4 linked regions of the Homo sapiens genome follow. The protein of the gene in region 2 interacts with the protein of the main gene of each other region in a pairwise test. Each region holds a gene or a part of one and is shown on either strand. Other genes may lie near its edges. The genes, in order: SLC16A7, VTI1B, PTPN5 and CD46.

Region 1 (7,037 bases), on a different chromosome or scaffold from region 2:
TCAGCTGGTACAGTTAGTAAGTGGTTGAGCTGGGGCAAGCACCGATGCGATCTGTTTGGCTTTAACCACTGTGTCATATAGCTTCTGCCTTGCATGAAGCTAAATAAGAGCAAAGACCTTACCTGTTGTTTTCTCCATAGCCCAGTACAGTGTCTGGCATGTCATGGTTCAGAACAACTGATTATAGAAAGAAGGAAAGAGGGAGGGAAGCAGAACTAGAGGGAAGGAGGAAGAGGAGGAAATAAAAATTAGCAAGTCCAAGTGTCTCCCGCCTTCAACACTGAATCTGGCAGGAAATCCAGCATGAACTCTGCCCTGAGAACACAATAGTTGAGGCTCTTTTGAGGATTCCTTTTCCTTGTCTTGCATCTAATCATCTAGTTTATGATGCTCATTTATGCAGAATAGGAAAATATTCTCTTTGGTTTGACAAATTAGCAAAAGGTGCCCATGAAGTGCAAACATCAAAGAGTGACCTACTCAAGGTGGACCAGGAAAAAAAAAGAAGGAAGAAATTAAAAGGGCAGACCATAATGCAGGGGCACTGGATTTAAATTTTAGTTAAGCCACTGGCTGGCTTTGTCTTATGCAATGTTGTGGTAGTACTTGTATTGTTGTTCTGAACACCAAAGACGATAACAAATATAAGCTGTTTTATACTGTGCCTGATAAATAGAATGGCATGCGGCAAAGAATAATTACATTCTGTTATTGCCCTTTGTTCCCCTCCTCCCTTCAACTCATCCCAAATAAAAAGTACCCTCCTGTTTTCCACATCTTGAAGTAATCTGTGTTCATCTGAACTACTTCGTAACTTGATCTGGGCTTCTCTTAGGCTGATTCTTATATTTTACCTTGAATTACAATTATTTGGGAAGGCATCCTATCTCTCTTCCTGGGCTACATGGTCTTTGAGAGTAGATGGTATATCTGATTCATCTTGGAACCTCTGTGGAGCTGCTGCTTGGGACAGGACAGGGCAGACGAGGGGCTCTGAAGTCCAGCCTGTCTGGGTTTTGATTTTAGCTTTGCCACTTATCAACAAAGACAAGTTGCTAGACCTCTTTAAGTCTCGGTTTCTTCATGTGTAAAAATAGAATAGTAACCAATTTTGTATATTGGTTGTAAACATTAAATGAGATAATATCTGTGAAATAGCACTGTGCTGAGCACATACATAGAAATAACTCAATAACTACTTTTAGGTATTAAATATTTGGCTTTATGTTTTTTAGTTTATCATAAGCATCACTGGCTTATTTTTAACAGATTTTTGGGAACTCTGAAATGCCAAACTTGCCATTAGATGGCACAACAAAGTTGAATTGCATAATAAACCATTAAGTGGACTCCCTTTGAGAAGTCATCCTGGTTTGTCACAGGCTTTCTCAAAACTGTTTGGATCAAAGTGATTAAGAAATATCTTGGGAAACATCTGCACACTAGCTCTCAGTGAATAATGGAACTTTTTTTTTTTTTTAACTTGTGAGAAAGCTTCATTTTCTCAGTTGCTGCTATAAATGGTGAATCCAGGGGCTGAGTCTACCTATGTGAGAGATCCAGCTGTTTAAAATCATAATATGAGAGACTAGCCTAAAATGGACCATTGTCGAGAGGAATAAATAACACTTATCACACGTATTTGGTAATTAGTAAATAAGTGGAGGGTCTTTATATATCAACTGTAATCATTAAAAATGTGGGAGAAAATTAAACAAATTGGAGCTGACTATAATAAAACTAGTCCAGCTGGAGCTGGACTAACTGGGACTTGGGTGCACCATAGACAATTTCAACATATTCACAAATATCAGTGTTGATAAATGAAGCAAGTATTTTTGGAAATAATTTTTCTGACCTAATACTAAAACTCCCGCAAATGTTTTCATTAATACTCATTGAAGTCTCAAAGGACCTCATGAAAATCCTATGGGACAACTGAACGACAGCTACAAGATACTGGCCTAAAGGTACTTTCGTTAAGTTCCACAAAAATGTCTGTATGGTTCAATTATAGAGCCTGGTGATTAGTTTTATGTAATAGTTGGCATTAAAATAGCAACTTTCAATAGAAAATATTTTGTGTAAGTGGTGAACACAAATGAAATATTTGTTTAGATAAATAAAGATCCATATACAGTGTTGGTATTTTGTAGAAAGCATTTTATTATAAGCATTTGCTGTTTCTCCACCTCATAATACAATATGTATCATTATTAATTAGTCAATACCTCTAATCAGATTTCTATTGAAGCTAATATGTAAAAGAATGGTACTTTTTACAAAGCAGCTGCCCTACTAAGTAATTAACTTGAATATCTATATCTTTTTTAACTAGATTAGATAAGAATAAAAAATAAAACTACAAAGCATGCATTTGATAAGTTTCTAAGGGATATTAACATTTATCTTATTTTAAAAATGATTTTCAAAATTTCTAGGATTTGAAGTTCCATCAGTTCTTCTCAAATATGTGAAAGGCAAATTCAGTGATAAATGGCAGTCGGTGACAGTATTTTTCAACAGGTGGGATTATTGGCATTTGGGGTGGGACACTTTTTCATTGTGTAGGACTGTCTCTTTCATTGCAGAGCATTGGGTGTCTGTGACCTTTCTGAGTAAATTTGGGCTGCGATAACAAACTATAGACAGATTAGGTAGCTTATGAACAACAGAAATTTATTTCTCACAGTTCTAGAGGCTGGAAATCTGAGATCAGGGTGCTGGCATGGTCCAGGTGTTGGTGAAGGCCTCTTCTGGGTTGTAGACTGCTGGTTTCTTATATCTTCACATGGTGGGATGAGAGTGAGAGCTCTCTTTTATAAGGGTGCTAATCCCATTCATGAGAGTTCCTTCCTTATGACCTACTTAACTCCCAAAGTCCCCATGTCTTAATACCACTCCTTTGGGGATTAGGACTTCAACATGAATTTTGGAGGCACACATTAAGTCCGTAACAATGATCTATCTCTGTTTTCTATAAGTCAGTGGCTTTCCCTTAGTCATTGTAACAATCAAAAATGCCTCTCTACATTTTAATATACCTGTGGTGGAATGGTGATCCATATGGTTGAAAACTGTCAGCCAATAAGATCAAATTGAGATTGTTTAAACAATTTATTTGGGATCAGAGTACTTTCAGAGTACTTTCAAAATTATTTTGCCTTTCATTAAAGGATGAAAATAATACTCTTGTATAAAAATATTTTGTTTTGAAACAATGAGTTCTTTATTAGTAAGGCATAACAACTGTTAACTTTAATAATCAGAGCATCATTGACCTCCTAGCCTCCAAATTATTTGCTTTGGACTGTTAATAACCTTTGGCAGTATTCATCCCTAATGCTTCTTGAACTCCTGTTTTGGCTTTCATGTGCTCTTTATTTTGTTACTTCTCTCACCGCTCATTTACTGCTTCTTCTCCAGCTCGCCTTTCACCTCGTATTCAATATAAGTATGTCTTCCCCAGTTTGTGTTTTGGGCTTTTTTTTTTTTTTTTTTTTTTGAGACAGGGTTTCACTGCAACACCCAGGCTTGGGTGCAATGACATGAACTTGGCTCACTGCAACCACCACCTCCTGAGTTCAAGTGATTCTCCTGCCCCAGCCTCCTGAGTAGCTGGGACTATAGGCGCCCACCATCACGTCTGGCTAATTTTTTGTATTTTTAGTAGAAATAGGGTTTCACCATATTGGCCAGGCTGGTCTCGAACTCCTGACCTCAAGTGATCTGCCCACCTTGGCCCCCAAAAGTGCTGGAATTACAGACATGAGCCACTGAGCCTGGCCAGACTTTTCTTTAGCCTGCATTCTGTTGATTGACAAAGCTCATCTGCTCTGGACCTCCGCTTTCACCTCAGTAGGAATAACTCCCAAGCCATTTGCTGTAGTCCTGACCTTCCCTCAACTTTTAGGCATTTCCAGACATTTCTAGATGTTTGCAGGACAGCTTCTCTTTACTGTGCTTTTGATACTTCCAGTATCCTGTGGTCTCTTCCTTCCTTTTTGTCTTCTTTCTTTCTGTCACCCCCATTCTTCATATTGATATCAGCAGTATTCTAGCCTAGAAGCTTTTGAGACCACCCTTTCTCTGGACTTGTGTACATCCAAAATAATTTTTTAATTATTTATTTCTATTCTGTTGTTGCCAGAAGTTTCAGGTGCTTTTGACATACTACCTACAGTCATGTAATAGTCTCTTAGTGGGTATTCCCACCTCTGGTCTCTCACCCTACCAGTTAATTCTGTACATGGTATCAGATACTCTCATGGAAGCACACCTTTGTTAAGTAACACTCCCATCACCTAGGTCCAAGGACTGACATTTCAGTCCCTGCATGATGTAAGTCCAAACAGCTGTTCCATGTTCATCTCCCACTACCATCATACTCAACTCAAATGGAACTGTCCTCATGCCTCGTTCATTCTCATTCTACTTCCTACCGCCAAATCTTTGGCCATGCTGTTCTTTTATCTTGAAATGAATCTAACGTCCTACGATTTCTAGCTCTAACCTCACCTTCTAAGAAGTTGAGCTTAAACACCACATACAAATTTTCCTCTGACACCTCTGGATAGGTAGAATAATTTTTCTAAAATTTCAGGAACATTATGTTTATAATGTCTTATTTGACATTGTATAATAGAATGTCTTGACATTCTATTATATTTGATTTTATATAATTATTCAGTTTCTTAATATACTATAAAGTTGTAGATGTCAGGAATAATAATGTATTCATATTTATGTCATCTTTAGCATTTTGGTGGATTATAGAGTTGCAAGAAACTTGGAGGACATCTGTTTCCACTTTTATGTGTTGTTTTCATTATGTTCAATAAACCACCATCTATTATTTAAGTGTACACACTGAGGCAGACTGTTCTTTTAAAGGCAGTTCTACTTGTGACTCAAATTTTCTTGTTTCTACCTAGGGTCTTTGTTCAGCTTCCTGGGGCCACATGAAATGAATCCCTTTCTCATTTGAATGACATACTCTACCAATGTGGTGACAGCTCACATGTCTTTTGTTTTCTCTATCAATTTAACATATTCAGTTTTTCTTCCTGTTTTTTGCATGTGACCTGGTTACATTCTTTATTTAAGGCTGCTGTATTGTGGAGTAATTCAACTTTAGGAAAGTCCACAAATGCATAGAATACTTCAAGGATAACAATGGTTTTGAATGTAAATATTGGAATTGTTTTTCATGATGTAACTTGTCAATATCTCTTCAGGTGTCAGGGTGGGAAATCAAGGTATATATAGCGATCTACCTCTGGGAGAATCCCATAGTTATCTCAGGGCTGAACTTTCCTTTCTGTGCCAACAGTTTAATAAATAAATAAATGAATAAACCACTGGAGGATGATAGGAAAGCTCACTTTAACTTTTGATTGTAATTGGAAATTAGCCACTCAGTAAAATTATACTCTTTTATAGATTAATGCCCTAAGTAGTAAAACAACAAACATGTCTTGTGTGTGTGTGTGTATAATAAGTGAATTTAAGGACATTGGACCAAATAAGTGGCTATTAAGTAAAGTTATAAAGATAAGCTTTAAGTAAGAATAGCTTACATTTGTTGAACACTTCTATATTTAATACCTTACATGTTTTAACTAATTTAATCCTCAAAACCTTATGAGGAAGCATTTTTGTTATCCTCATTTTACAGATGGGCAGAGTAGAGCACAGAGGTGAAGTATTTTGCCCAAGGTTACACATCTTGTCATTGGAAGGGTCTGGATTTTAATCTGTTGAACAAAATGTACCTTTTCAATAGTATTAATTTCAAGTATTTCATGCTGCAGTAAATTTTAAGACATTCTTGGGAAAAGTCCGATAATTTTATTTTTTTTCTTTTTTGAGACGGAGTCTCACTCTGTCACCCAGGCTGGAGTGCAGTGGCACAATCTTGGCTCACTGCCAGCTCTGCGTCCTAGGTTCATGCCATTCTCTCGCCTCAGCCTCCCAAGTAGCTGGGACTACAGGCGCCCGCCACCACGCCCGGCTAATTTTTGTTTTTGTATTCTTAGTAGAGATGGGGTTTCACCATGTTAGCCAGGATGGTATTGATCTCCTGACCTTTTGATCCTCCCACCTCAGCCTCCCAAAGTGCTGGGATTACAGGCAAAGTCTGATAAATATTTTTTCAAACAGAGACTAGTAGTCAGGTATAATGAGTTTGGGTCTGTTACAACATAAAGTCAACAGGAATGATAAGGCTTCCTTACTATTTGAAGGAGTTACCTGGAACCAAGCTAGAAAGCTTAGAGAAAGTAACAACCCCTTGTGGATTCAAGGAGGCTGGAGAACCAGTAGGGACCGAAGGAACAGTAAGTCCAGGATGTCATTCCTATAACTCAGTTTGCAAGGTGGTAGGGATAGAATACGTGGGAGGTGGCAAGACTCCCATGGAAGCCCTGTGCTGTGGGTATCAGTGAGTGCATGAACAGAGTAGGGTCTGGAGAATTCTCATAGATGGGTATATATCAAATTTACAGTGAAGAGGGATTTTGAATAAAGCCTCTGACATATTTTAAGGCATAGAATGCAGTACTTTAACAACTATTTATTCCCCTGCTGTGTTCCAGACACTGTTTTGGATGTTAGAGAGATGGCTGTAAATAGAACAGGTAAGTCCTTTTTAGTCTTGAGTTACACAGATATCAAATATATTCTCAAAGCAAGGTTAAGCAATTTATGTCCTTGAGCCAATTTTTTTTGTAGACCTCTCATGCCATCTTCTCTATGTAGCCAGTCTTATTCTGTAGTTATCTCTTTATTCTCTTTTCCTTTTTTCTCAATCTGTGTCACATGTCAGATCAGAGACTTTGAAGACAGATAGATATAGCCCAATGAAATTTCGACTAAGCTACTTCTAAGCTGTTTGACCACAGTCAAGGTATGTAACTTTTAGAGCCCCAGTTTTCTCATTTTGGAAATAATAAAATTTATTTTATGAGTTGTTGTTGGAGAAATAATGTAGGTAGTCAATAAATGATAATCATCATCATGTCATTTTTATCTCTACC
Region 2 (4,085 bases):
GAAGAAAGCAGATTGCATACCCACGGACGCACATGATAATGATCTTGGTGAGAACAAGAATTCTTGATTAATCCTGTCCATTTCTCCCTTTCATAGGTACCACAACTCCCAGGATTTTCCTGGATCAAACCTTGTATCTCTTCTGCAAGTATTGTGTATATTGGTCTGAGAGACGTGGACCCTCCTGAACAGTAAGTTGATGCATTTGGCTGAAGTTTAGGGCCTGTCCTAGCCAATTATGTTCTATTTGAAAGGCTGATGCTTAACTTGGTCTATTGCAGGTCACTACAACAAACCCACCCTCTCCCCCAAATACATATTTGTTAAAAATGCTCTTTAAACTAAGGACTCCTCCCTTTATATCTCATCACAGTTTTATTTTAAAGAACTATGATATCCAGTATTTTTCCATGAGAGATATTGATCGACTTGGTATCCAGAAGGTCATGGAACGAACATTTGATCTGCTGATTGGCAAGTAAGTAACTATAACTGATGTCAGGGCAAACCCCCAATGGGCAACACACTTTTAGCCTGTTTCTTGAGGACAGCAGCTTTACTTTTAAAATACAAAGCAAAAACATACACATAATTTTAAATAGTTCAGAAAGGCAAAATTTGAAACACAGGTCATATTCTTCCTCTGGGGTTTTTGGGAGGAGGTTTCCTCTAAATCATTGCCTAGATCTTCTGTCTCATGAATTTTTCTTTATCTCCATCTTTAATGCTTATCTTCTGAGATGACAAGCATTTATTGTTTCAACTGTCCCATTCTTCCCAGCCTCACGATTGTTTCATCTGAGTTTTATATTAAGCAAATCTTGGCAGTGTAGAAAGATGGCAGATGAATACTAATCAAATGGTAATTTTAAGAGCATTTTCCCAATACCAAGTCTTTACTTCTGGGTGATTAATGTCAGAATTGTTATCTGGTAGTATGTCATTTCATAAGCTGTTAAGAAACTTAGTTGTTAGCTTCAGCCTTTGGACACTGGGGCTATAATGAAGTTAGAAATGGAAGATGTTAAAACTGCAGACCTAAAATTAGAGTTCACTTCAGCTGCTGTTACGTTCAGAGAATAAGAGCAACCATAACTTACATCAAGCCAATTTAAATTAGACTAATTTAAATTGTCTAATTAAATTGTCTCTAGATGAGAGCCCAATCTCATCTAGAAGTGAAGAAATCTCTCTATTGACAGTTATTAGTATAAGAGGTTCTAATACCCAGTGTAAGGCAGAAATATACATTGGAGTTAGTCTGTCTGAGGTATGCAGAACAAATGGCAGTATCATGAAGTGGTATGTAGGAAGTTAATATTGCCAATCTCAGTAACTTCCAAGAATAGGAAGCCTGGAAATGTATTAACAGCTTTATTAACAAAGTACTAGGACTAATAGCAACAAAATCAAGGAGTTGCAACCATAAGAAGGATGAGTGTCCAAGGACAACCAGTTAAGTATTATTTTAAGTATTATTTTATCCTCTTCCTTTTTAGGAGACAAAGACCAATCCATTTGAGTTTTGATATTGATGCATTTGACCCTACACTGGCTCCAGCCACAGGAACTCCTGTTGTCGGGGGACTAACCTATCGAGAAGGCATGTATATTGCTGAGGAAATACACAATACAGGTATGTAGCAACCAGGTCTGCAGCCTGTTAACTACATAGGTAAATATGCTAGAGTCTCTTGCCTGCAAAGGATCTTTTCTGCTATTCCACATCATTGCAGAGTTTGTTTTTGCTTAAACTTTTGTAGCTAAAAATTATATGGCCATGCTAATAAAAAGGATATAGTCCTTTAGAGTCATGCTTGGACATGGCTCTTACCAAATTACACTAAGGTAATAATGAGTAAAAAATTGTATATTTAAACAATTAAATACAAGAATAAATTGTCAAACTGATGCAGTTCTTTGAGTTATCTAAAGGCAGATTAAGATAAGAAGGCAAGATAAGATAAGAGTGCAAGGCTGTAATTTGCACTCTAAGAGATTGGTTCATTGGGAGTTGTGAATTTGGAGCTAAAGCTGATCTCTTGAAGAAATCTGCAAACTGGACAATATCTTGGGTCCTTTATGTAGGGTAGGTCTTGTACTAGAGCCTGAAAGGATTTCTAATAAGGGGGATACAGTTAGATGAGAATGGCTGATGGAAAGAGTACTAAGATGAATTCTACGTTATCAAGACTGGCTACTTTTCCAAAACTCATACTTGTTTGCAAACAGTTTCCATTTCTGTCAGAAAGCTTCTGGTTTTAAAGCTACTTCAAATGACCTTTCATTCCAAAATTTAAAGAACTACCAAATCATACTGCTTCAGTAACCATCTGATGGAACTAGGGTATAGATAGAGACCCCAGATTGAAAGGTTCAGGGCTATAGAGAACCCTTGACTAGCTGGGATAGAAACTCACATTGAGAAATGGTCTCCTTAGCGCCACAGCCTGCCAGAACCTTAGGCAGTACAAAAAGGCAGGCAGTACTGGTCTAATTCTCAGATCTGCAATCTTAGATGTTGCCAGTGGTCCTTAGGTTATTGGCCAGAGAACTTGGGGGTTCAATTCTCTGCTTTGCTTCCTAAAAACACCACTTAGAGCAGGGGTTAATAACCTCTAGCACTTATATATGGCATGGCTTGTCTCTTTGTTCCTATGCTACAATATTTTACTCCAAAAGACACTCATGGGGCTAGGCACAGTGGTTCATACCTATAATCCCAGTACTCTGGGAGGCCAAGGCAAGAGGATTACTTGACCCCAGGGGTTCAAGACCAGCGTGGGCAACATAGTGTGACCCCGTTTCTACAAAAAATAATTAGCCAGGTGTCCCAACTACTTGGGAGGTTGAGGCTGCAGTGAGCCATGATTGTGCCACTGCACTGTTATAATGCTGTCAACTAGATACATAAAGCAGTTTGCTTAATTTATAGGGTGGCAATAGTCTGGAAACATAAGTCATGTATATATTTCTAATAGTGCAAACTTTGATGACCACTTCTGGGATATGCTAAAGGTGCAGGTTTAGTCAGTGGAAATCAGAGACAAATCAGGAACACAGGTCCATGTGCAGGAAATGATGGAAATGCTACAGTAATACACCTGTTGGTTGCAGTTTGGCACTGTACACTCAACTATGCATTGCTAATAAGGGAAGATGCTGAACGGACATGATGGCATTCAGCACATCATGTACTATAGTGTAATATCAATAAACCATTAGGTACATTTGCCTGTGTTTCCAGACTTTATGGCCACCCTAAATATTCTTAGATACTTGTATTCCTGAATACTAGCTTGTTCAGATCACCCTTCATCCAGAATAACCAACTAAAAAGTTAAATTCTATAGAGAAGTGAGGCATTTAGAGGGGTGAGCATAGTAGCAGGTCTGGATAGGTTCTTCTGGTTTAAGCTTCCCTTCCACTTGCTCCAGGCCAAAGGAACACTACCGAGAACTTTGACACAAGTTCTCAAACCTTAACAGAAGGTAACTGAAGTCCAGATAAAATAATTAACATATGGCTGAATTTTCTCTTGATCAAGTACAAGACACTGGGTCAGTCTGCTGGGAGACAAAAAGATGTTGTTAGATGTGGAACCTGCCTCCAGAGCTCAGGCCTGCAGGGGTGAGAATGAAGTTTGCAGTAATAACTACATTTCAGGGCATATGGTGTGGTGCTCTAACAGATACAGATAACACATTAGAGTTCAAAAGTGGGAATGCAGTTTGGCTAGTGCAAGTGGCAGATTTCCTCTGCCTTCATACTTGATTCATTTCCAGGCAGGCATCTGGAAGGTTCCTAGTCATACTGGAGGTGGCATACATTTTGCCAACAAGCAGGATGAAAACCTCCCCCACCCAACACCAAGCCTTTTCCTTTTCCAGAACGCCTGACAATTATGCCTGTTATGTTAGTTGAACAGGGATGGTTTATTTCATTATCTTAAAAGGTTTCTTTTAATCTACTATAGCACAACAGTGTTTTAACTTAAATTCATGGCCAAGAGGATGAGGTGCAAGGGGCTTCCTAAAAATAGGTATTTTCTACTATAAAATGGACTCTTGTTTTTACTTTGGCTT
Region 3 (7,037 bases), on a different chromosome or scaffold from region 2:
ACAAGGGCAACAGGGTTGCTGCTACAGAGTGTTGGGTTCAAATCTCAGCTGCAAACTCTATAAGCTACTTCCGTTTCCTGAGTCTCAGTTTCTTCCTCTGGAAAACAGAAGTGCTACCCATCTGAAGGACTTTTATGGAGATTCGGTTAAATGGGCCCTTATGGGTACAGGAGTAGCCAACATCTGTCCTGGCAGGCTGGGAGGCAGCAGAGTGCTGTGTTTAAGGTCACGGGCACTGGAAGTGGAGAGGCCACCTCCAGGCATGCCTCTATCTGTGAAGCCCGGGGCAAATGACTTAACCTTACCGAGCCTCACATCTCCTCATCTTGGCAGCGGAGTGAACACCGCCGACCTCTTGAGATTGTCATAAAGATTAATTTGAGAACAAGATACTTAGTGTAGGGCGCAATGTAGCAGACACTTAGAATGGGGACGGGGGTCCCTACCTCGTTCATCTCCTCGATGTTGGTGATCATGACAATGATGGGCGTGTGCTCCTGCCACACCATGCGCCAGAAGTCGGCGACCGTGCTGACGATGGGTCCCTGAGTGGCGATGTACACCTTCTCCTCCCCACCATAGCCCTGCGGCCAGCCAAGTCCAGGCTGTCAGGGTCAGAGGCAGTGCTCCCAGGACCCCATCCCCACACTCAGGCTCTTCACAGGAGCTGGCAGGAGCCAGACTGGTGTAGGGACAAGGCTGGAGGATGGATCCCATCGACTCAGGCCTCCCCTTGAGCAAGAGGCCGTCAGGGTGGGAATACGTACCCGGATGTAGTTGGCATTGATGTAGGAACTCAGAGGGTCGTCAGGGTCTGGTGAGGTCAGACACACTCTGCTGTGAGGGTCTGGGGTGGTGGGAGACAAGTAAGGCTGGAAACTGGGCCCTCTGGTGCAGGACCCACTTGCTCTGGCCTATTCCAGCATACCCACACTTCTTCTGCGACATTAGCAGTTCTTCCTTCCCTTGCCCAGCAGCAAAACATTGACCCATTCATGGTTCATTTTGTAGGTGAGGACTCAGGATGAGGAGGAGGGTGGAGAGAGAGGGGGGTCCCCGGGTCTCTACCTCTGTCTCTATCCTTAGCCTGTGCCTCTTAAGTTGCCCTATACTCACTGCATCTTAGCTTCTGGAGAGGAGACAGCTAAGTCAACAATGGAATTACCTAGGGAAATTCCTGTACAGATCTTGTTCAGCAAGAGACAGCTAGCTTGAGTACACACTGTCATTGACTTGCTGTGTAGGCTTGTAAAACACATGGCCTTTCTAAGCCTTAGTTTTCCTATCTGTCAAATGGAGGCAAAGATGCCTACTTGCTTGGGCTGTTGGGAAGATGAATGAGAAAAGAGATGTGAAAGTTCTGTGTAAACTGTAAAGTGCTTTATAAATATAAAGGGCTGTTAAGATTCGGGAGTAGAAAGTTGACGGAGGCTATTAACATGAAAACGATAGTCTCCTCTATCTGGATTAAGACTGTGGGGTCTCAGCCTCATGTCCACATATGCAAAAAGGTTTTTTTTCCTTTCAATTTATTCACATGTCAAATCCCATAGTAAAAGGGTCTCTGTCACTCAGCTGGAGTGCAGTGGCACGATTATGGCTCGCTGCCGCCTCAAACTCCTGGGCCCAAGTGATCCTCCTGCTTCAACCCCCTGAGTAAGCAGGACTAAGCCATGAGCCACTGCACCTGGCTAAATTTATTTTTTTATTTTTATTTGTTTATTTTGGTAGAGATGAGGTCTTGCTATGTTGACTAGGCTGGTCTCCAATTCCTGGCTCAAGTGATCCTCCTACCTCGGCCTCTCAATGTGCTGGGGTTATAGGCATGAGCCACTGTGCCCAGCCCCCACTCTGCTCTTCTTCCTGGAGTAGATTTTGTTTTGTTCCAGCTACAGCCTCTCTGCATTGACTATTCTGTCAGCCTGCAGAGGCCAAGACTGAGGTTGTATGGGGTAAGGGGGAAGCTGGCTGGGGCCCCAGATTCCTGGGTTCTGGTTTAGTTTTGTCATCAGCTCACTTGTCCAGGCCTCAGTTTCTTTCCTATAATAGGGAGGACTGGACTAAAGGCACTTCCAGTGTGCACATTAGGAGGCTCTCACAGGCAGTATAGGGGAGTCATTAAGAGTCTACACCGCTGAGCCAGAGAGGCTAGGTTCAAATCCTGATTCTGACTTACTAGCAGTGTCAACATGGACAATTTACTTTATCTCCCTGTGCCTTATCTGTAATCTGGGGATGGTCATTCCACAATGACCTTGCTTATCTTGTAAAGGAGTTAACTTTAACAACTAGAGTCCTTATGCCAGTAACTAGGACCAACACGAAGTATCAGTTGCTGTTATTCCTGACATTATTACAAGTTCCACAAGTTAAAGGATAAAAAGAAGGATCCTAAACCCAGTAGGAGAAATTGGGGAGGTAAAGGGCACAAGCTTCGCCTCTTTAGCCCAACCCCAATGTCTAAGGTTTTGGCAGGTGATTTGGGGCAGTTCTTGTGAAGAGGGGGTGTAGAGGGTGGCAGGGATGGAGAGGAGACAGGGTAAACGGGAGGGGGGCTTTTGGGGGACCTGCAGCAGAGAGGGGCAGGAAGCTCTGTATGGGCCGTCTCCCTTCTCCTTGTCTGCAGGCAATGCTGTTCTGTCAGATTCACGTGCACAGTGCAGGGTAGGGAGTGGTGAGTGGTGAGGCTGGAGAGGAACCAGGCGACAAAGGGTCTTATAAACCAGGCTTAGAAAGCTGGATTTAGGCCGGGCGTGGTGGCTCAAGCCTGTAAGCCCAGCACTTTGGGAGGCTGAGGTGGGCGGATCACTTGAGGTCAGGAGTTGGAGAGCAGCCTGGCCAACACAGTCAAACCCTGTTCCTACTAAAAATACAAAAATTAGCCAGAAATTGCTTGAACCCAGGAGGCAGAGGTTGCAGTGAGCCGAGACTGTGCCACTGCACTCCAGCCTGGGCAGCAGAGTGAGACTCTGTCTCCCCCAAAAAAAAAAAAAAAGCTGGACTTAAACCTGAGGATTACGAGGGTGACAACAATGATGGCATTTAAGGAAGAGAATGACACAATTAGATTTGTTTTGCCTCATTTTGGTGACAATGGTAGAAGATGGAGAGGAGAGTGTGGAAGCCAGAAGACCAGTTAGAGGTTTACTGCAATGATCCAAGTAAGAAGTGTCAAGGATCACAGGGCTGTCCAGCCTGGCACGGCTCCAGGGGGCACTTATGTCAATGTAGTCTATGTAAATTGTGTCCCCTGGAATTGGACAACATGAAAGCCCTAACCTCAAAAACATCATTTGGCAGTGAGGCTGGAGAAGAGGATGTAGATTTGAGAGATATTATTCATTCATTCATTCAAATAGGTGCAGACCCCGGCATGGTGGCTCATGCCTATAATCCCAGCACTTTGGGAGGCCGAAGCAGGCGAGGACAGCTTGAGGCCAGAAGTTTGAGACCAGCCTGGTCAACAGAGCAAGACCTCCATCTCTACAAAAATTAAAACAGTCCAAATAGGTGCAGAATGTCTACCATGTGCCAGGCAGCACTGCTTTGATGCTTGGGACACGGCGGAGAAGGGGACAGAAATTGCTCCCAGCATCTTGTTCTCAATGCTGCCTGTGGGTTACTGTTCACTCTGACTGTAACTGTGCATGGACCTCTCTCCCCCGCTAGGCTGGAAGCTCCTTGTGCACAGAGTCTGTGTCCTATTTATGTCTAAATCCTCAGCCCCTGGGGCAGGAGCCGAGGAAATGTGTGCCCAGTGAATGAGAGAACAAACCTCAGCGCGTCCTGGATCTCAGAGGCAGCCTCTGCTCAGCCTCACCTGCCCTCTGCACCCCCCAACCCAGTCTCTGAGGGCACAGGCTCCATTCTTGCTGGACACAGACAAGATTCTTTATTGGGCTCGGGGGCCTGGAGGCTCAGGGCATGGTTGGAGGCAGCTCAAGCCTCTTGGAATGCAGCGGGGACTGCATCTGCACGGAATCCTAGTCTGCTCCCACCTTCCCCCAGTGGCCATTCTGAGCAGCCAGCAAAGTCCAAGGTTCTAGGATACTCGAGTCCCTCCCTCCAGGTAGGGCTGGGATCGGGGAGGGCAAGACGAGGGAAGAGGTGAGCATCCCTGAATAATGCATCCTGGCCTTAAATGGCTCTTTGTTTAACCGGAACTACCTAGAGACTGTGTAACCATAGCAACTACAAGTCGATATTTTAAAAGTTAAAAATAAGTCATGACATCTTACATGTTGTTGGAGATGCTGATGGCAAAACTGCTTTTTAAAAGCCTCGCTACTCCACAAACTGAATGGAGTAGGTTTATGGGGATTCACTTTCAACAAGTCAACGCCCAAGCTAGCCCTGGGGACTGGGGTCAGAACTTGGCGAGGGTGGCAGGCTCATCGAGGCTTGATAAAAGTTATCTGAAAATGATACCCCAGGGCTGAAAGAGGAGCATCAGGTCACCTGGTCTAACTGCCCCCAAAGGAGGAAAACCCCTTTCAGACCTTCTAGGGGACTGCTCGTGCCGCCTCACTTGAATATACTGAGTAATGGGGAGCTCACTCCCTGACAGAGACAACTCATTTGCCTGTGGGAGTGGATGTCCCTGTTAGAGGGCTTACAATTCGACCACACTCCACACAGTGTAGACAGAGAGCCTGACTCTGGGATCACAGAGGCCCAGGTCTGAAATTCAGCTCTGCACTTCCTAGCTGTGGGACTGCAGGTGAGCCACTTAACCTCTCTAAGCCTTAACTTCCTTTCCTTAAAATCTGCCCACTCTGAAAAGAGTTTCGGTTACCACAGTGTGGCTAGGAACTGCTGTCATTACCACCCTTTCTCTTTGGGTTTCTAGAGGGTCCAGCACAACATGTGGCCAGGCAGGGCAAAGGACCAGAGAGTGCTGTGCGAGGAAATGTACTCGCCTCTGGCCTCACCAGGGCAGCGCTTCCCTTCAGCCAGCAACCCCCAGCCCTCTGTCCCACCTCCTCCAGTCCTGTCACCCCTAGAGGCCCAGCTGAGGGTCCTCCTCAGGGTGAGGGGATCCCCAGGTGAAGCTGAGCCTGCCCCCATCCCTCTGGGACAGTGAGTACTCACTGGGAAGTATGGTTTTGTACCGGTTCTTCCGCACCAGCCCAGGGATGTCGTACTCTTTCGGATCCACAAAGTTCATGGGGATTTCCTGTGGAAGGAGGACACGGGGTGTGAGCAGCTATGGGCCCTCACAGATGTTTGAATCCAGGGGCTGCTGTGCCCCCAACTCCTAGCCCAGGGGCTGGCTTGAGTGCACGCATTCATTCAACAAACATTTACTATTAAGAGAGTTAGTGCTCACGACGCATTCAGAACAGTGCCTGGCACATGCTGAGTGTGTAATAAATATGATAATGACTATTGTTTATGGAGAGCCAGCCTGCCATATATAGACAGTCAATAAATAGCTGATGAATGAAGAAAAAGACAAAAAGTGACCTGGCCAATGGCTGCCTTCTTCCATGCTCCCTGGGCAGCATTCCTCCCTGGGCATCCCTATCTCGGGACCTAGGTTCGTGCTGCTTGCTCTGTGGTAACACACACCCCATCCTCATCTCATGTCCCGCCTCCTCTGAGAAGCCTTCCCTGATTCTCCAGAAGGAGAGAAGCCTCTTTCTGAGATCCCAGGAATATCTGCACCTCCCAACCACTGTCTGTGTCCAGAGCTCTGAGTCTGAACTTCTCTCCTGGCATGTGAGGGCTTCTTGAATCTGGCCTCTCTTTACTTCCAGTTAGGCCTGTTTCTCCCCTGTTGTTAATCTGCTGTTCTCAGTCCTGCCTCTGAGTCTGAGCTTGTGACGTTCTGCCTCCTGAGGGCGCTGGTCTCCCCTACCCCCATCTCTCCAAGTTGTTCCCACCCTTTAAAGTTCACCTCTGCCCGGGCGCGGTGGCTCACGCCTGTAATCTCAGCACTTTGGGAGGCCGAGGCAGGCGGATCACAAAGTCAGGAGTTTGAGACCACCCTGGCCAACATGTTGAAACCCCATCTCTAATAAGAATACAAAAATTAGCTGGACCTGGTGGCGGGCCCCTGTAATCCCAGCCACTAGGGAGGCTGAGGCAGGAGAATCGCTTGGAACTGGAAGGCGGAGGTTGCAGTGAGACAAGATCGCACCACTGCACTCCAGCCTGGGCAACAAGAGTGAAACCCTGTCTCAAAAAAAAAAAAAAAAAAAAAGTTCACCTATGAGTCTGTCTCCTCCTGACATCTTCCGGGATGACTCTCCATGCCTCTTGCCTCTGCATTTCCTTCCAGTCTGTCCACCAGCTTAGCCCCTGACTGCACCTAACTTCACACTGTTCATTGTTTTTGGACACACTAAGTATGGGCTTTGTAAAATGAGGATCATCACACTTTCCAGGATTGTGAAAATCAAAATAAAAATACAACACGTGCAAAACTGCCCCCAGAGTGGGTGCTCAGGCCACGCTCCTTCCTCAACAAAGACCCACCGGACAGGAAATGAGGTAGAGGATGTGATTCTTTCTCGAAGGGGAGATGATGGCAGTGGGAGCTCAGAGAAGGAGCTGAGGCTGGGGTGGTTAAAGAAGGCTTTCTAGAGGCATCTGGAGTGAGTGATGATGTGAGCAAAGGCACAGGAGGAGAAAGGCACGGACGAGACTGGCCCAGTTTGAAGTGGACAGTCCCTGCAGGGGTGGGGCATGGGGCATAAGGCTGGAAAAGGAGGCTGGGGCCACACGAGGTAAGGGGTGCTGATGGTGTATGCAGGTGGTACCAAGTTCTGGAGAACTTGGAGCAGCAGATCAGATGATGATGGAGGTCTTCTCACAGGGGAGAGCTACCCGGTCCAGACAGGCCCAGGGCGGAGGCCAAAGGAAGGGAGCTATGAGGGAGGAGGCACCTGCTTCTGTACCCCTGTGGCTTCTACCAGGAGGAACTCACCCCAGATACTCTTGGCCTCTTGCCTTTTCCTGCTCACAGAAGTGAGGAGTTACCTGTTTGGTGAATTTGGTTGAGGAATGGAGCTTTGGAGCCTCAGCCCCTTCCT
Region 4 (7,037 bases), on a different chromosome or scaffold from region 2:
TCTTGAACTTCTGACCTCGTGATCCACCCACCTCGGCCTCCCAAAGTTCTGGTATTACAGGTGTGAGCTACCCCACCCAGCCTATAAGAAGGTATCTTAATTACTATGTTAACATGCATAATTCTCTTCGATCCTTTAAAATATTAGGGAGATAGGAAATATATAACCAAATTAGAAGCCAGTGATTGAGATTTCAGTTCAACACTCACATTATACTAAAGGGAAACTGAAGACCACAGAAATGATGTTAACTAAGCACAGTCTGCCCAGACTGAAGTGCTACCCACAATTACTATTGTCTCTTGCTTCTGCTGGAAGCAAAGTGAAACCAGAGATGGTAGTGCTGAAATCAGGATAATTCCTTCCATCATATCAAAATAATCTCTCCAGTCATAAGCACAGTGGTTGACCAGGAGTCCCTGCAAAAGTCTTCTATTTTATTTCAGTAAATAAGGACTTTTCCTGCCTTTCAGTTGCTATAAAATTGAGTTGCTATTGCCAGATAAAACTGCCCACTAAAGAGAAAAAAAATAAATAACATTATGAGGTGTGGAAGAGGGGTGGGTAGGGAAGAGGCAGAAATACAGATCTTGTTCTGAGGACAGCAGAAATTTCCCTGTTTAAATGTTTTACATCAGAAGACTCAAACTAGTTGCATTCCAGGAAATGAAAGAGTCCTGCAATAGGAACAAACTCAGTAAAGGTGTCAACAGATCACTTCTGAAAAGAATAAAATAGCAAAGTTGATGACACAAAACATACATATTAACAAACAAACATATTAACATATTAACACACACACATACTAACAAACATACATGAACCTTCCCCTTCCCTAACATTAATTTAAGTGTAGGATAAGTCATATTGGCTAGCTCTAAGAGCTTTCTCTACACCAGGCACTGTGCTAAGTGCTTTAAATGCATCCCACTTATACCTTACTAATACCCAATAAGGAAGGTACTAAATCAATTTCTCTATATATAATGTAAACATATATATATAAACACATTCAAAATTTATACAACTTTCCCAAGGTCATATTCCTGTTTATATCAGATTATGGCAAATAATTTTAGAATCACTATGTATAACAACTAAAATGGCTATACAAATGTCCTCCCTCCTTTCATTACTAAAAATAAGTGAACATCACCAGAAATTTGAAGGATTTTATAAAAAATCACCAGGAATTTAAAGGATTTTTGAAAAACTATAAGCAGGAAATTACTAAACCTGAGGCACTGGACGCTGGAGATTTTGTAGTGGAAGAAGTCGACACTGGAAAACAAAATAATAATGTAGATTGGACCAAACACTTGGGAGTTATTGCTGGCAATTTCTCCAGGAATTCCTTATATCTTGTAACATATAAGGAAGAAGACATATAAGGAAGAAGCTACTAAACCTGAATGACTCAAAGCTGGAGGTTTTGTACTAGATGGAGGCAGCACTAGGAAACAAAATAATGTTAGAAGATCAACCACTTGGGAGTTATTGCTCTCATTTCATTTATATGAATTATGCCATTGTTGACTTACTTAGATAAAAATGCCCATGTTTCAATTCCAAAAAGTTGTTGTAATTCACTTTTTATACATAAAAATATTAAAAGCATATACCCATGCAATGTACATAACGTGCTAAGAACCCTGGAAAAGCACAAAAAATCACAACAGCAGAATTTTATGTGAATTTCGTGTCATTCATCTGGCATAGAAATGAATACAAGACAGAGTTAAATACTAAAATTGTTTCTTTTCAGTTATTTTGTATGACTGATAGTTAATATCAAAGAAATAAAGTCTAAAATGAACAGCAACAACAATAACAAACCAAGACAGAAAAAAGATAACCTTTGTACCTTTAAGACACTTTGGAACTGGGGGATCCCAAGTACTGTTACTGTCACAGACAATTGTGTCGCTGCCATCGAGGTAAAAACCCTTATCGCATTCAAACATAACTGTTGCTTTGTAGTAAAATTTTTTTCCAAATCCTGATATCTGTTTTCCATTTTCGACTACTGGAAATCGACATTTGACCACTGGAAAATTAGAGAAACCTCAGAATTAATGGATATCTGCTTTAGCAGAAAAAGTAGTACAAAGTAGTAATTTCCAGTGTGAACAGAGACAAGGAATGGAATGCAAGATGTTAAAAACATTTTTTAAAAGACTTTAAATGTTAACTAATATATTCTCCTTCATACAGAATTCTAGGGTGTTTTATTTTTCTTTCAGCACTAACAGAGATAACCATATTGTAACCACATTTTCTTAAGAAAACTTGGCTGGCTGTCATTCTTACTTGTCCCTGCCCTCCTAAATGTAATACGGGTTTTTGTTGTTTTCCCCACTCACTGGCTGCTTTTTAAAATTTTGTTTGGTAGTTTTTACCAAACTACTGCAGGGGGGTGGTGGTGGTGGTAAATTTTAATAATTTATTCATCCTGCTGAAGGTTCACTGAATCTCCTGGATCTGAGGTTGTTTTGGATCTAATTTGGATAATTTTTGGCCAATATTTTTTCAAATAATATTTTACACCATTCTCTCTCCTGTCTTTCTGAAACTCCAATTACATGTATGTTTCACTGCTTGATACTCTCCCACAGGTCTGTAAGCCTCTCTCTTTCTTTAGTCAACATTTCTTCTTAAATAAGGTTCAATTTCTATTCACCTGTCTTCAGGTTCACTGACCTTTTGTTGTGTCTAATTGTACCTAATGTTATTTGTAAAGGTTGGTTTATTGGATATAATTTACATACAGTAAAATTCACCATTTCAAGTGTACAGCTGTATCAGTTTTGACAAATGCAAATAATCATGTAACTACCACCATAGTAAAGATACAGAAAAGTTCCATTACTCTCCAGAATTTCCTCATGCTCTTTTGTGAGTTACCCCTCTTCCCCCTCATCCCCACTTCCACAACCAGCTAACCATTGATCTGCTTTTATCCCTATAGTGGGACTTTTTCAGAATGTCACATAAATGAAATTACAGTCTTCTTAGTATGGCTTATTTCACTAAGCATGATGCTTTCAAAATTCATTTGTGTTGCTGCATGAATCAGTTCATTCCTTTTTATTGCTGAGTACGAGTCCATCTTTTAGAGGTAGCACAGGTGGTTCATTCATTCACCAACTCAAGAACATGTGGCGATTTGCAGTTTGGGGTGATTATGAATAAGGCTGCTGTGAACATCCTCATATAAGTTTCTGTGTGAAAATGTTTTCAGTTTATTTGGGTTGCCGAGTTGTATGATAAGAGTATGTTTAACTTTATAAGAAATGCCAAAAATGTCCCAAAGTGGTCATTGCACTTTGATTCTCACCATCAGTATATGAGAGTTTCATCTGCTCCATATCCTTGTCAATACCTGGTATTGTCAGTTTGGGGTGTGTGTGTTTACATTTCGGCCTTTCCAATAGGTATTTAGTGGCATCTCATTGTGAGTAGAGACAGTTTTTATTTCTTCTTTTCCAACATGTGTGCCTAATAGCTTTCTCTTGCCTTACTGTACTGGGTGGGATCTCCAATATAATGCTGAATGGAGTGGTAAGAGTGGACATCCTCACTGTTTTCCTTCCAGAATTAGGTCTTTATTAATTAGACAGAAATGTAAGTAAGGTTTTTTTAACCACTAAGTACAATGTTACTTTTTACCACTAAGTATAATTTTTTTGAACCATGAAGTGTAATGTTAGCTGTGAGATTTTTGTAGATGTCTGTTATCAGGGTAAGATAGATAGTACCCTTCTGTTCCTAGTTTGCTGAGAAGTTTTATCATGAAAAAATAAGATGATGAATTCTGTCAAACATTTTCTTTGTTTTTTGCATCTAATAAGATAACCACATGATTTTTTTTCTCCTTAATAGTCTACTGATGTGGCAAATTACACTGATTAATTTTTGCATTTGAACTAATCTTGCATTCATAGGGTAAATCCTACTTGGTCATGATTTACTTTTCTTTTTATGTATCACAGGATTTGGTTTGCTAATATTTTGTTGAAGATTTTTGGTCCTGTGTTCATCAAGGATATTATTTGTAATTTTCTTATAATGTTTTTGTTTTCTGGTTTTCGTATAAGGACAATGCTATCATCATAAAATGGGATGAGAAGTGTTCCCTCCTCTTGCACTTTCTTGAAACGCTTGTGTAGAATTGCTGTGATTTATTCCTTAGATGGTTGGTAGAACTCCCCAGTGAAGCCATCTGGACCTTCAGTAGGTTATTAACTACAAATTTTATTTCTTTGGTAGATATAGGAGTATTCAGGTTATCCATATCTTCAAGTGAGTTTTGACATTTTGTATCTTTCAAGGAATCTGTCCATTTCAGTTGTCAAATTTGTAGGCATAAAGTTGTTTATAATATTCCCTTGTCATCCTTTAAATGTCTGTAGGATATTTAGTGATATTCTCTTTTTCATTCTTTTGTTTGTCTGTTGAATAATTTTGTAAAGTAATCAAGTAAAGTTTACATCACTGATATTAAAGAATGACCATATGCACAAAAGAATATAAAGCTTTTTGGCTAAGGGATGGGGGGAAGTCAGAAAAAGGATGAGAAACACATACGGGGTGGACGTGAGGAAGGAAAGTGAAAGGTGTAGGCACCCCCACCTCACTTCCTGAGGCAGGGCCGTCAAGGACTCTCAAGATCGAGCGGCCATTAATTACATGGATTCAGATTTCTTTCATTCTAGACTTAAATTTAACCTTAGGTTTTGGCTCCAGCACCAATTTAACAGAGCAACGTAGGCATTTCCAATCCAGCAGCACACGCTGTTTCCAAGCGCATGTGACTGGCGCACCGCAGCTCCGTGCACACCCCAGGAGCTCAGTCCGTGCCCAGAGCAGGTGCCTGTGCTGTGGAACCTGACAGGAAGCCTCCCAGAACACCGCCTATCACAAGGCGCCACCTGAGGGGATCTGAGGTCTCTAAAGATCAACTGGTGCCTGTGATTTCCAAAGATTTAACCTTAGCCTTCAATGACATTTACATATAAATTGTCAAATAAAACCCTCCATAATTTACACTTAAGTCTAGGAAGACATGGCACAAATGTTCCAATGACAAAAAAAAAAAAAAAAAGTGTAGCAGCTGTGTGTGTTTTCCCCACTTTGACCAAGCTCTCACTGTAACACAGGGCATAAATGAGAAGGGTTGCACACAAATTTAAAGTATACAAAAAAAAAAAACCAAAAAATCATACGTTAACGCTGTTGACTTGTTAACAATGCAAGGAAACTCACTGGAAAATAAAATCCCTTATTTGAACCTTAAAAGAATGAAATGTACCAACTAAACTGTGTAGGCTCTAATGTAGCAGCACAGAATGTTTCCAGAAAAAAAATACATTGAAAAAAAATAAAAAATATTCAGAGATAAAACTAAAAAGATTAAAATATATATATCTTAAGAAAACTTATTGCTCAAAACATATGAAACTTAATTCTAAGAAATTCACCTACCTAAATTTAAACAAGATTGCTGCAGTTGCAGCTCGCCGTCTCCGAGAGACACGAAAAGTGATGAGGGGCGCAGGGCTGTGGGGATGTCAAGACTGGCCCAAGGTCAAAAAGCCCTTGAGGAGAGCCCTAGCTCCCACTGAGACCAGCCTCTGGCCTGCCCTCTGCAGACGGGAAGGAAGGGGATGGGTCTGGGGCTGCAGACCCTGCTGGAATTAGCAGAGGAGCCAGCAAGGCTGGGGGGCTATAGGCTGGCCAGTCTCCCTTAGCTGGATCCCGTACTCCACGCCTGGCCAGCACTCCGGGACGCCTGGCTCAGGTCTCCATCAGGATCTCCACTACGTGTTCCTACTTGCCCAGGTCAGAATGCAATTGCAGCTGGAGGTGGGAGGCCGGACGGCAGCAGGCCCAAGCCTCTGAATGCTTTGCAGGGCCACCTCCCATCGTGTGGGTCAGCACCGTGTGTCCAGGTCATCATAGGAACTGACCACATCTGAGGCCAGTTCTTCCATGCAAACTGGGGTTTTTGGTCTTCAGTATTTCAAATATCTCATCTAGCTACTTCTGAACGCCTCCTCTATTTTCCCCAGGGCTGTCCGTCTCCCAGATGCTGCTCTTCAGGGCTCCTGGCGCCAGTGCTGAGGTGACAGAGCAAAGGTCTGAAAACTGGCCCCTTCACGCAGCAGTGTCCAAAGCGGGGGGCATGGCACACCCCCTCTGGCTTCCACATGGCGGGCACAGGCCACAGGCACAGGATCTCTGCAGAAACCAGGCAGTGGAACAACGCCAACCCCACACTCTCGGGTGCCTGTGTGTGCCACGTCTCATCCTGGGCCATCTCCTCTTGGATCTGCCAGGCGTGTTGGCGATGAGGACCCTGCGGCAGTGGTTGGGCTCCACCAGCAAGTGGTAAAGCTGGAACTTCTAAAAGGACAAGTCCGGGAGTGACTGCCCCTGCCGGCTGCAGGAGGGCAGGGTCTTCAAGCTGGCTGGGGTGCCGCGCCTGGCCACCACTTCTTTCATTCTCAGTATTGGTTAATTTGCGTCTTTTTTTGTCAGTCTGGCTACAGGTTTACACACTTTATTGATCTCCAAGTAGCAACTGTTGGTTTCACTGATTTCCTCTATTTTTTTTTCTTTTCTCAATTTCATTGATTTTGGCTCTATTTTTATCATTTCCTTACATCTGCTAGTTTGGGATTTAACTTGCTCTTTTTTAGTTTCTTAAGGTGGAAAATTAGATCATTGATTTGAGACTTTTCTTTTTTTCTAACACAAGTATATTATGCTATACATTCCCCTGTAAGCAATGCTTTAGCTGCATCCTACATATTTGGATATTTTGAGATGTTGTGTTTTTATTCAATTCAAAACACTTTCTAATCTCCCTGCTGACTACTTCTTTTATGCATGGGTTATTTAGAAGTGTCCTGTACACTTTCCAATTCTTTGGGGATTGGCTTTGTTATTGATTTCTGCTTTCATTCTATTGTGATAATGCATGTTGAATGATTTCAATTTTCTGAAGTTTGTTAAAAGTTGTCTTATTGTCTAGA

What was found.
Region 1: the proteins of VTI1B (region 2) and SLC16A7 interact in binary tests that used the Homo sapiens proteins (3 or more experiments, as listed by UniProt).
Region 3: the proteins of VTI1B (region 2) and PTPN5 interact in binary tests that used the Homo sapiens proteins (3 or more experiments, as listed by UniProt).
Region 4: the proteins of VTI1B (region 2) and CD46 interact in binary tests that used the Homo sapiens proteins (3 or more experiments, as listed by UniProt).

The regions. Positions count from the first base shown.
Region 1 is NC_000012.12:59,598,997-59,606,033, forward strand, and holds part of SLC16A7 (monocarboxylate transporter 2), read left to right. Parts: intron 1-7,037. UniProt on the Homo sapiens protein: Proton-coupled monocarboxylate symporter. Catalyzes the rapid transport across the plasma membrane of monocarboxylates such as L-lactate, pyruvate and ketone bodies, acetoacetate, beta-hydroxybutyrate and acetate.
Region 2 is NC_000014.9:67,646,548-67,650,632, forward strand, and holds the end of VTI1B (vesicle transport through interaction with t-SNAREs homolog 1B), read right to left. Parts: 3' UTR 1,637-4,085; coding exon of another isoform or gene 1,500-1,636; 3' UTR 538-1,499; downstream 1-537. Other genes in the region: ARG2 (arginase-2, mitochondrial precursor), read left to right, coding at 97-191, 374-478, 1,500-1,636. UniProt on the Homo sapiens protein: V-SNARE that mediates vesicle transport pathways through interactions with t-SNAREs on the target membrane. These interactions are proposed to mediate aspects of the specificity of vesicle trafficking and to promote fusion of the lipid bilayers.
Region 3 is NC_000011.10:18,732,789-18,739,825, forward strand, and holds part of PTPN5 (tyrosine-protein phosphatase non-receptor type 5), read right to left. Parts: intron 5,177-7,037; coding exon 5,092-5,176; intron 848-5,091; coding exon 768-847; intron 585-767; coding exon 447-584; intron 1-446. UniProt on the Homo sapiens protein: May regulate the activity of several effector molecules involved in synaptic plasticity and neuronal cell survival, including MAPKs, Src family kinases and NMDA receptors.
Region 4 is NC_000001.11:207,762,023-207,769,059, reverse strand, and holds part of CD46 (membrane cofactor protein isoform 3 precursor), read right to left. Parts: intron 2,048-7,037; coding exon 1,865-2,047; intron 1,454-1,864; coding exon of another isoform or gene 1,409-1,453; intron 1,282-1,408; coding exon 1,237-1,281; intron 1-1,236. UniProt on the Homo sapiens protein: Acts as a cofactor for complement factor I, a serine protease which protects autologous cells against complement-mediated injury by cleaving C3b and C4b deposited on host tissue.